3 linked regions of the Homo sapiens genome follow. The protein of the gene in region 3 interacts with the protein of the main gene of each other region in a biochemical or structural test. Each region holds a gene or a part of one and is shown on either strand. Other genes may lie near its edges. The genes, in order: PRKN, UBR5 and UBE2J1.

What was found.
Region 1: the proteins of UBE2J1 (region 3) and PRKN form a complex in vitro, tested with the Homo sapiens proteins (4 studies listed by BioGRID).
Region 2: the proteins of UBE2J1 (region 3) and UBR5 form a complex in vitro, tested with the Homo sapiens proteins (one study listed by BioGRID).

What each region holds. Positions count from the first base shown.
Region 1 is NC_000006.12:162,259,018-162,262,766, reverse strand, and holds part of PRKN (E3 ubiquitin-protein ligase parkin), read left to right. Parts: intron 1-1; coding exon 2-242; intron 243-3,749. UniProt on the Homo sapiens protein: Functions within a multiprotein E3 ubiquitin ligase complex, catalyzing the covalent attachment of ubiquitin moieties onto substrate proteins. Substrates include SYT11 and VDAC1.
Region 2 is NC_000008.11:102,411,044-102,414,792, reverse strand, and holds the start of UBR5 (E3 ubiquitin-protein ligase UBR5), read left to right. Parts: upstream 1-2,092; 5' UTR 2,093-2,558; coding exon 2,559-2,620; intron 2,621-3,749. UniProt on the Homo sapiens protein: E3 ubiquitin-protein ligase involved in different protein quality control pathways in the cytoplasm and nucleus. Mainly acts as a ubiquitin chain elongator that extends pre-ubiquitinated substrates.
Region 3 is NC_000006.12:89,350,952-89,354,700, forward strand, and holds the start of UBE2J1 (ubiquitin-conjugating enzyme E2 J1), read right to left. Parts: upstream 1,772-3,749; 5' UTR 1,619-1,771; coding exon 1,588-1,618; intron 1-1,587. UniProt on the Homo sapiens protein: Catalyzes the covalent attachment of ubiquitin to other proteins. Functions in the selective degradation of misfolded membrane proteins from the endoplasmic reticulum (ERAD) and is essential for cells to recover from ER stress.

The sequences.
Region 1 (3,749 bases), about 73 Mb from region 3:
GAATTGTGACCTGGATCAGCAGAGCATTGTTCACATTGTGCAGAGACCGTGGAGAAAAGGTCAAGAAATGAATGCAACTGGAGGCGACGACCCCAGAAACGCGGCGGGAGGCTGTGAGCGGGAGCCCCAGAGCTTGACTCGGGTGGACCTCAGCAGCTCAGTCCTCCCAGGAGACTCTGTGGGGCTGGCTGTCATTCTGCACACTGACAGCAGGAAGGACTCACCACCAGCTGGAAGTCCAGGTAATTGGAATGCTCTAAGATTATTAAAGCATTTTGTTTGTTTGTTTAGTGCAGTCTGCATGGAGCATGGCCTCACCGGGTGCATATTTAGTTTATGATACGTTTTGGATTGGAGTCTCTAATTCACTACAAGGAGACATCACTGTAGGTGGAGTACTTTGATGTAACATTTGAGAATGCATTTATTGTAAGTACTATGAAACAGGTTTTCATATTGAGATTAAATATAAGAGATATGTTTCTAGTGATGTAGAAAAATTCTAAAAAGCAGAAAGAACTCTAAAGCTAATCGAGCCATTTGTAGTTTCTAAAGCCAGATATGCCAATGGCAATGACATCCTTAGTGTGAAAGGACTCTTCCTTCTCTCTATGCTACCACCCATTTCAAAATGCTTTTCTTTGGCAAAGATTGTTATTGTTTAGTTATTTTAAAAAAATTAATATGTGCCTCTTAGTCTTTTATTCTCTAATCTAAATAGTCAAAGGTGTAATAGAATTAATTTTTACTGTGTTTGACAGAAGACACAAAATAATCACAATGACTTTACAGGGTAGAAGTTGATTTTCCTCCCACATACAATAGATCCTGGCAGTTGTGGGCTGGTATGGCCTTCACAGTGTCAGAAAGTTCTGGGGCCTGCAAGATGGAAGCCTAACATAATAAGAAATGCCTCCTACTAAACTTACTAAATAAAATTTAAGGAACTTAAAAATTTTCGATGATCTTGCAAAAAATAAAAAAAGATAATTTCCAAGGACAAGTGAAAATGTAGAAACAACATCTTTAAATACAGGAGTAGATAAGCCCAGAAAGTAAGGCATTAACTGATGCTCTGGTGATCTTGAGATGATTGTGGGAGGGAAAGAGGCTCTGCTTCATGTGAGCTGGGCACCTCAGGTCTGGAAAGAAAAATTGAGAAATGGAAATAAATGTCAAAAATGGGGAAAAATGAGATAAATCTAAACCCCTGCAATACTCTTGTGACCAGAATAATATATTAATATAAATATCGAACCCAAGCCCATAACAATTCTGACGTTTCAACCAGAGTATGTATAAGATCATTCTGACACTGACACCTCTAGAGAATACTCATGCTCCAACATTATAAACCAAACAATGGAAAATTCCACCTTGAGTGTGTATGAGACCAGAATATGCCACCCCAAAATATGCCACTTTAGCATAAGTATTATTTTAAGCTGATTATTTTGAGAAACAGTAGACACAGGAAAAGCTCTAAAAACAGAGTAGAAGTGACCCTTTTGTAAGGGAAATTTATATCTACCAAGGAAGTCTCCATTTGTAAGGGTGTCTCCCTCTCCTTACTAGGATGAGGAGGACAGAGTCTCTGGAGACTCTGATCCTTGAGAAGGCACCAACTGAATAATCTGCCTAACAAACCTTACTCTTGTCTTCTCCTCTCCCTTTCTTCCTTTGCCATTGAAGATGGTATTCAAGCCTGAATTTTAGGCACCTCTTTGAGATTTATGCATTTTTTCTGGGTGTCTCACATGTACAGTTGTCCCTCCCCATCAACAGGCAATACGTTTCAAATCCCCCAGTGTACGCCTGAAACCAAAAATGGTACCAAACCCTATATTTACTATGTTTGTTCCTGTACAACTGTATAACAGATTGGATTTATTATGTTAGGAGACCTATCTACTAGTTCTTTAATTTGATTTCCCAAAATAAAATTCTTACTAAAAATAAAAAAATCACATTGTTTAGAGCAAAATTAAACCTTTACTTATTATCTGAATATTAAAAACAATTTGAGCACAAGAATCCTGTTGTGTACATATTCATGTTCTTTAATACATTTCCTAGTGCATCTGGCTCTACTCTCTTATCAACCATATTCATCTGAAAATTTTAGTCTTCTTATTTTGTTTTATCATAAAATTGCCCTTGGTCTTCTCCAGAATTTTCTTTTATGAGAATGAACTTAGAATTATTGACACTTTCAACTGACTCTCTCTCTCTCTCTAGACCATAATATTTTAAGAAAATATAGTATTCTCTCTATATAGGGTCTGAAGTACCAGTAGGCACTGAGAAAATTCTGCTAAATGTCTAATATTCTCTTTATATTTTTAAATTGAAATGTGTGATTATTTCAACCCAAACAATAGAGAATAAATTCTAGTAAATTTATGGAATGTGGTAAATGACAGCAGCCTTCAGAGTACTGTATGATCTATGATGATGCGCTGTTTCACCTTGACTTTCCACTCATGTCTGAGTCACATCTAACCTCTGATCACCCTGTTTCTCATTTACCCCTCTGTCTTGTGGCCTGCCAGCCTTGTGCTTTTGGCAGGCTAGGGACTGGCTCAGGCAACTCTACATGGTGCAGTTGGGGGCTGCAGGGTTGCCATCCTAACACTTCTCCCTGCACCACTACACACTGGGGGCAACTTCCTGGCACCCTACATGCTGCTACTAAAAGGCCTCTGTAAAGATATGTTGCATCTGTAAAGATTGGGAAAAGAGAGATGGTGCATCCCAGGTCAACTTTCAGATTTAACTCTGTGTTAAACTAACAGCTAAACTACAAGTAATCCTCTCCTGCTCATTAGAACTGGAGGGAATCCTTTTCAGAACTCTTAGGACTCTCCCTTATTACTTGCTATTTTGTACTCCAGTTCTGACTTCACCTTTTAATCTCTTTGAGGATGGAGTTTTTGTCCAATTAACTGTAGTTTTCCCCAAAATCTCTTAGAAGAGTGGTGATACATGTTTACTAAATTGCTTCAAATTGTAAACATAGTCAGTCATTCAACAGAACTCCTGTGCATTTAGCTTTTAGAGCGAATGCTTTATTTAAAATTATACAGAGAAATTGAGATTTCATCTCTTCAAATGTCTTGGTTCATTCTTGGTTTGAGTTAAGACTGAATGGAATGATTTGAAATGACTATATGCAAACAGTATGCCTATATGATTATTTTTCTTCACTAAAAATGATAGCGTAAAGTTACTAGAGCAGAGATTCACAGACTCTCATGTGCAGAATTATCTTGCATGTTTTTCCATGTTTCTTTGATGGCCAGAATGGCGAGAAAAAAAATCTTCTTTCATTCTTTTTCTGTGACCAGAAATTTTGATGTATTTGTCTGGGGGTAGAGGCCCCAAAATGTTGGTACTGACCATACTCTGAGAAACTCTGCCCTATGGCTAAGGTTTTCCAGCCTTACAATTATGGATCCTACCTGTTGTTCTCACGGAACAATCGGACGCTGGGTGGGAGAACAGAGGCAGGTCGGTGAGAGGTGAACACACCAAGCCAATCACAGCAGCCTGAGACCATTCCTCTTTACGTACTTCACATATTAAACACATAAAACATCTATCATTTGAAAAGATGAAAAAAATCCTTGGTTATACAATGTTTGAAAACCTGTGCCTCAGAAAAAGAGATTAAAAGAAATCCCAATTTTCTGTGCTTCCAGAGTCTTCAATTTTAACTTCGAAGAATATAAGTGCTGGCTGGACGTGGG
Region 2 (3,749 bases), on a different chromosome or scaffold from region 3:
GGGAGGCCGAGGTGGGTGGATCACCTGAGGTCAGGAGTTCGAGACCAACCTGGCCAACATGGTGAAACCTTGTCTCTACTAAAAATACAAAAATTACCCAGGCATGGTGGCAGCGCCTGTAATCCCAGCTACTCGGGAGGCTGAGGCAGGAGAATCACTTGAACCCAGGAGGCGGAGGTGGCAGTGAGCCAAGATCGTGCCATTGCACTCCAGCCTGGGCGACAGAGCAAAGACTCCGTCTCAAAAAAAAAAAATTTTTTTTAGATCTGTTTGGCTTGAAATCTAGCAGTGTCTACTGGTCTACCTTCCTTCCTCAGGGCTCCCAGGGACATCTAATAGTGACCTTGAAATCACTTTTTAGTCTAAACTAATCTGGGCCAATGGTTGAGCTGGTAACCTACAAAAGTGTTCCATTATCTGCCTTGAGGGTACCAGGTCTGTCCTGATTTGTAAGTATTTTTTCATAAATTTTGCTCAGAAGAACTTCCTAAGCAAAACTGTGTGTGTGTGTGTGTAATTCATTAACAGACCACCTCTGTAGAAGGAATGTCATGTTCTCAGTTTTTGCCTTCGAAGAGGTACTTTATTTTTTAAAGGAGGTCATAGAAACCTTTGAGAAGAAAGTCATGAATTGGTTCCTTAGGGAAAAAAAAACAGACTTATTTGATTAAAAAAAATTTTTTTTTGAGATGGAGTCTCGTTCTGTTGCCCGGGCTGGAGTGCAGTGGCATGATCTCAGCTCACTGCAACTTGCCAGGTTCAAGCAAGTCTTCTGCCTCAGCTTCCTGAGTAGTGGGGTTTACAGGCGCGCACAGCCATGCCTGGCTAATTTTTGCATTTTTAGTAGAGATGGGGTTTCACCAAGTTGGCTAGGCTGGTCTCGAACTCCCAACCTCAGGTGATCCGACATCCTCGGCCTTCCAAAGTGCTGGGATTACAGGCGTGAGCCACTGTGCGCCGTGGCCAAAACTCTGAAAGTGTCTTATAGTAGAAACTCGGTATAAAAGATCCTATCTCGGCCAGGCGTGGTGGCTCAGGCCTGTAATCCCAGCACTTTGGGAGGCCGAGGCGGGTGGATCACCTGAGGTCAGGAGTTCGAGACCAGCCTGGCCAACATGGTGAAACCACATCTCTACTAAAAAAGAAATACAAAATTAGCCGGACGTGGTGACACATGCCTGTAATCCCAGCTACTCCATAGACTGAGACAGGAAAATCGCTTGAACCCGGGAGGCGGAGGTTGAGGTGAGCCGAGACCGCGCCATTGCACTCCAGCCTGGGCAACAAGAGCGAAACTCCGTCTCGGGGAAAAAAAAAAAAAAAATAATAATTTTCCGTTCTGATTCCACTGATCATAAATTGAACTCCTTTGTAGAACAGGTTTATCATCTTTCATTTAAAAGTAATAAAAAATCACGAATCATTTATATCAGGAAATTAGTGGAAATTTCCACATTTTGTCTTTGGGCATGTGATGGTGGTGAGGAAACTGGGGAGACCGAGGTAATAGAAGTTGCTGCAAAGCCAACTCCAGGATCCTACTATCTCCTTCTGGAAAGGCCCTTACATAATTTCCTTACTTTTCCAATAAAAGGCTGTATATGTCTTGCCCCTTAACTGATTTTACCAACTTCACCATAAATACAACTGCGGATGAAGGATGAGAAGCAACAAGAAACCCCTAAGGATCCGCCAAATAATTAGGGCTGCCCCAGGGGAATCCGAGCGAAAGAACACAAGAGCCCCTCTTCCTCCTCGCCTCCTCTGGGACACACACTTACCCTCCCTCCCGGCAGGTTAGCCCGCAGCCTCCTCCTTCCCTAACACGTGCTCTCCGGAACACTCACTCTGGAGACATCCCACCCCCGGCGGGGCTGGGCTCGGGAGCCGAACGGACCAATCGGCACGCGCCTTACAGCGTCGTGGCCCGACAACGTTGAGCAGCCCAATCGAGGGGGCCTTGCCGCCCGTTTCCCGGAGCCCCGCCTCTCGCCGCCGCGCCCCCGCCCGCCGGTCTCCTCCCTCCTCCTCCTCCCGTTTGCCCCTCCCCCGCCGCTCCGGAGCGGAGCCTGCGAGACGGAGAAACTGGGGCAGAAGTGAAGATGGCGGCGGCAGCTTCTCGCTAGTGACGCGCGGTGCGGGCTCATCTCCTTCCCCTCCTTCCTCACCTCCCCTAGTCCGGACCCCGTCCGCCGCCGGGACCAGACCGTCCCCGTAGCCCGCAGCCAGCAGCCGCCCCTCTCCTCCCCCGGCCGCCCCTCTCCCAACGCCCGTCTGCCGCTGGCCGGCGGCGCGCCCCTGGTCCCGGCCGCCTGCCTCGCACTCCGCGCTGTCGCCGGGGGAGCGGGTGGCGTGTGGATTCGCCCTCCTGCCCGCCCCTCCGGGCCGCGGACACACGCCCGGCAGGGAGGCGGCGGCGGCCCCTGCGTATTTGCTTCCCTCCATTTGGGGACTGGGAGGCGGCGGCGGCTGTGGGTTTTGGGGAGGGGTAGAGGGCTGGGGGGCGGGCGAGAGCGGGAGGGGGCCGCCCTCGAGTGGAGGACGAGAAGGAAAGCACCATGACGTCCATCCATTTCGTGGTTCACCCGCTGCCGGGCACCGAGGACCAGCTCAATGACAGGTAATAGGGCTGGCGGGTCGGCGGGCGCGGGGGGAGGGGCGCCCTTCCCTCCCTCCCCTCCCCCACGGGCCGTGCCGGGCGGGTGCGGGTGTTTACGCGCCGGCCGGCCAGCTGGGGTGGGGTGCGGGGGTCCTTACTGCCTCCTGCTAGGCTCCTTCCGGGGCAAACTTCTCATCCCGGGGGCAGGGGGCCGCGGGGGGAGCGCGGTGTAGACGGGACTCGCGGTGTAGACTGGAGAGCGCTCTGTAAACCCCCTTCCCCCTCCCGCAAGGAGCGGCGTTGAACTCGGCGGAGATGGGGGGGTGGTTTCTGGCTCCCGGGGGGCAGGCGGTAATTACTGCCCGGCCAAGGCCCGAGGAATCCATATTAGTCAAAGTTGAATTGAGACAGACAATGCGGATGGGGGATGGTGGAGGTAAAAAGAGAGGGAAGAGGAGAAGCGGGGCCAGGGGCCCCGGGGTGGGCTGGGCTGGGCTTGTCCCGGGCCCCCGGCAGCTGTGTCCGGTGGGGTGGTCTGGACCTGGGGATCCCGGGGTCGGGTTGGGGAGAGAAGCCGATTCCCGGCAGATTGCTGGGAGCGGGCGGGGGGTGGGGGGAAGGTGATAGTTGGGGGAGGGAGTGAGGGAGGAAGCGCCATGATTATTGTTATTATTATTAAATTTGAGCCCCTGCAGTGAGGTTTGCCTGCCCCGGGAGGGGATGGATTCAAGCGGGGGTGGGGAAGTGCATTGGATTCCCTTTACTCTCCTCCTGAAATGGTGCTGGCAGCTCCTGCTACTAGCCCCTGTGGTGCGAGCTTTTTTGTTTCCTTTTCTATTCTAATGATAGTGTTTTCCTGAGTTGTAATTTGACAGCTGAAAACCGTGCGTAGAGTGTCAAAGGAAAACTCTTACGTTTGCAGTTCGCAATGCTGCTTTTCTTAACACGCTGTAAATTTCTGGGTTGGGTTTGCTATGGGCGGAGGATGAATTATGATTTTATTTTATGTTTTGTCTTTTATAGGCTGTTTTGGTTTGGATTTCTCCTTTTCTTCCGCCACCGTTCCTTGCCAGTTTAGGATATTGAATTGCAGTGCCGCATGCTCTCAGGGAACTGAGATAAGGCAGGAAAAGTTCCTTCACTGTTGGAA
Region 3 (3,749 bases):
GTTAAATATACCACAATGTAAATAATTCAATCATTTTACCATCTAGCTTAAAAATTAAGCTTTTCTTTCCCTCTTTCTCTTTGGTCTTTTCTTCCTCCCTCCCCACCCCGGGATTCTCTTTTTTTTTTTTTTTTTTTTTTTTTTTTTTGAGATGGAGTCTCGCTCTGTCGCCCACACTGGAGTGCAGTGGCGCGATCTCGGCTCACTGCAACCTCCTCCCCGGGTCAAGCCATCCTCCTGCCTCAGCCTCCCGAGTGGCTGGAACTACAGGAGTGCGCCACCACCATGCCCGGCTGATTTTTGTGTTTTTAGTAGAGACGGGGTTTCACCATGTTGGCCAGGCTGCTCTCCACCTCCTGGGCTCAAGCCTCCCAAAGTGCTGGGATTACAAGCGTGTGCCACCGTGCCAGGTCTTCATCAGATTTTTTTAAGGAGTCAGTGGCTCCTAAAATATTATGACCAGTTCTACACACTTGGTCACCTAAGGACATTTCTTAGCCTGACAGCACTCAGGCTAACAAAGCTCCCTCCAATCAATATCCTCAGGCTTTTCTGGGGTTTTTGCATATTCTGAAACCTTACAAAAAACCCAAAGATTCACAGTGTCAACTCTTTCCACAAGGATGCTAGTCTTGCTAATTCCTACTGAGAAACAGCTTTTTTTGGAAGGAAATTTTAAGCAACAGCAAAAGTTGGTGAAATCATCACTAATATCCTAGAGTTTATCATGCAGAGTTAACTGTGGAGTTTCTTCCCCCTGACAAAATGTATCAAGGTACAGATAGAAAAAATACCATTTAGAGGATCCAATGATTCATTTCAAGCCTGTTTTATTAAGCTGAGAAAGCTAGTTGCTTATCTTTATAATGCACCAGAAAGTAATTAGAGGCTAGGATTGCTGGGACTGCTTGTGTAAATATAAAGCAGGATCATTAAATGCAGGAAAGGAATCGCTACGACTGAATACAGATACATTTCATATTAGCCAGTCTGGCAAAAATCAAGGTTAGCTCTCAAGAACAGGGCTCAACGAGGTGTTTTTTTGTTGTTGTTTTGTTTTGCTTTAGCTCTATAGTTAACTGGTTTAGTTACAGAACATTTCCTTTATGTCTGTAATTGTATTCGCCCAAGTGCTGCAAATAGGATATTTAAACGACCAACTCCTCAAATGTGAGTAAATCAGCCGGCAGTAAATAGAAGTAAATAGAAGTCCGGTGGCAGCGACAGGGAGGGAATAGCGACCAGGTACAGCGAGGGGGTTGATGACTATCGCCCACCGACATCACCTTTACACCTGTTCTCAGGGATGAGTTTCTGACCCAGCTCTACGGGACCAGGCGAAGATGAGAAAAGGGAGAGGCTGGGTGCTGCGGGGCGCGCTGGCCGGCCGGGGGATTGGCAGCGGACGTCCACCCGGCCACCTCGCCCTGCGGCCTGTACTTCCCGGGCAGGCGGCGGTCTCGCGTAGAGCGCGAAACCAGGAGCTGAGCCGCGAGTGGCGCCAGACGCGAGGGGACCGAGGCGGCGACCACCCCGGGGTCCAGGGTCACTCCGCCCTCCTCGCCCAGGGGCCCCAGCCCTGCTCACCCGGACTCTTCAGGTTGTAGCGGGTCTCCATGGTGGGTCGCTGGCTTGGCTCCGGCCTCCCGGGCCGCTGCCACCTCCTCTCCACGCGGCCGCTGCCCGGGTCTCAGCGCGGCTCGGGCGGACGGGGCCTGGCCGAGGAGCCTCGGCAAATGCCGCCCAGTCCAGCCTGGACTGCGGGCGGGGTGGCAAGGCTGAGTGCGGGCGAGGCGCTCGCTTCGCGATGGCGCCGCCTCCTCCACTGCGCCCCCGCCTCCCTGAGTGCCTGGCAGGCACCGGCGCCGGCCGGGGCGGCGCTGAACCGGGCGCCCGGGCTGGAGGTCAGCCTCCTCGGGTAGTCGCAGGCCCAGCCCTGCCGCGGCCGCCCGGCTTGCGTCACCCGCCCTCGTCCGGGATTTGTGAAGTTGCCCTGACGTGGCAGTAGCTTCGTGGCGGTCGGTCACTACCCAGCCGCCGCCCGCCCGGCGAAGCCGGCTTGGGGAGGTGCAGGAGCGAGCGGCGTCCTCGTCCTCTCGTCCCGGCCCTGCCCGCTGTAGGCGAGGTCCGGGACCCCCGGGCCCTCGAGAGCTCGGAGGGGGCGCCGGGCTCCGGCTGCAAAGCTGTCCGCAGCCGGCTGCCCGCGCGCGGTCCCGCAGGGTCTGGGAAAGGCTTTGTTTTTAGATTCAGTTGCTGTTGCGAGGGGCGGGGGTTAAGTGAGGAGGGGGAAAGCCAGTGACAAGGAAATGGAATAGGATTTTTTTTATTTTTTATTTTGTGTGTGTGTGTGACGGTGTCACCGCTCTGTCGCCCAGGCTGGGATGCAGTGGCGCGATCTTGGCTCACTGCAGCCTCTACCTCCCGGGCCCAAGCGATCCTCCCACCTCAGCCTCCAGCGTGGCTGGGACCACAGGTGTGTGCCACCATGCCCGGTTAATTTTTTGTATTTTTGTTAGAGACACGGTTTCACCGTGTTGGCCAGGCTCGTCTCGAACTCCTGGACTCAAGCGATCCGCCCGCCTCGGCCTTCCAAAGTGCTGGGGTTACAGGCGTGAGCCACGGCTCTGGCCAGAGTTGGATATTCATAACAATTTTTTTCTCGGGTAGTGTGTTAGGTGCACGACATGTTTTAGGCATTGCAGGAGTTTTGTTTTTTTTGGTTTGTTTAGATGTAAAAGCTGTCAAAAAAAGGAATTACATTTAATGTGAGGGAAAGCATACAAATATGAAAGGTTAAACTTCAAAGGACACACTTACTGCTTCATTGTCCAATGTGTGGGATCGAGAGAGGACTGAGTTCAAAAGACTTAAGGAGTAGGGACCTTACTAAAGGAAAGGAGGGAGGGATTGGGAAGGTGGGGAGGATAGAAAGGGTTAATCAGGTTGGGCAAGTTTTATTCTGTTATATAAAGACATAAACTCTTAAATTTGATTTGTTTTCTATTGTTAAAGTTAATCTAAATCTGTGAGTTTCTTGATGAAATTGGGAGTAAAAAAGTGAAGGATATCTAAAATTAGATGGTATATTTTAAATCATTCCCTGATGTTGTTTTCTGTATAGTAAACTGATAATCTGACTGACTGAGATATGCAAACAAAACCAAACTCCAATGCTGCTTCATTCATTCATTGTGTTGAATCTTCAGATTAACTGACACTTGACACCCTCTCCTGCCACAGCTCTACAAAAGCCCCTAATTTGTGCAGTAGGCCCTACCACAGCAAGGCCTGCAAAGCAGGTGCTGTATATAATGCGTTCCTATTTGATAGCTGAGTACTAGAAGCCTTTTGCTATTCAGCCTCCAAGGTCCATCAATCTCTGGGTGCAGTTGTCCTCTGGGGCTCTCCTTTAGCCACCACCACCTCCACTGCTCCCTGGGGCTCTTCTCCCATAGGACTGGTTCAGTAGGAATAACAATCTCTCCTTCCTTGGTTAACAACAATAACAACAATTTATTGTGGACATGTGCCCATAACAATTTAATTATGGGCACATATCAAAGCTTAATTACAATCATGCTCCAAGATCAAAGCCAATTCCAAAATTTCTCTCAGCAGAGACATTTACAGAGAAAAGAGAAGTGGCTGGCAGGTGTGGTGGCTCATGCCTGTAATCCCAGCACTTTGGGAGGCCAAGGCGGGCAGGTCACCTGAGGTCAGGAGTTGGAGACCAGCCTGGCCAACATGGC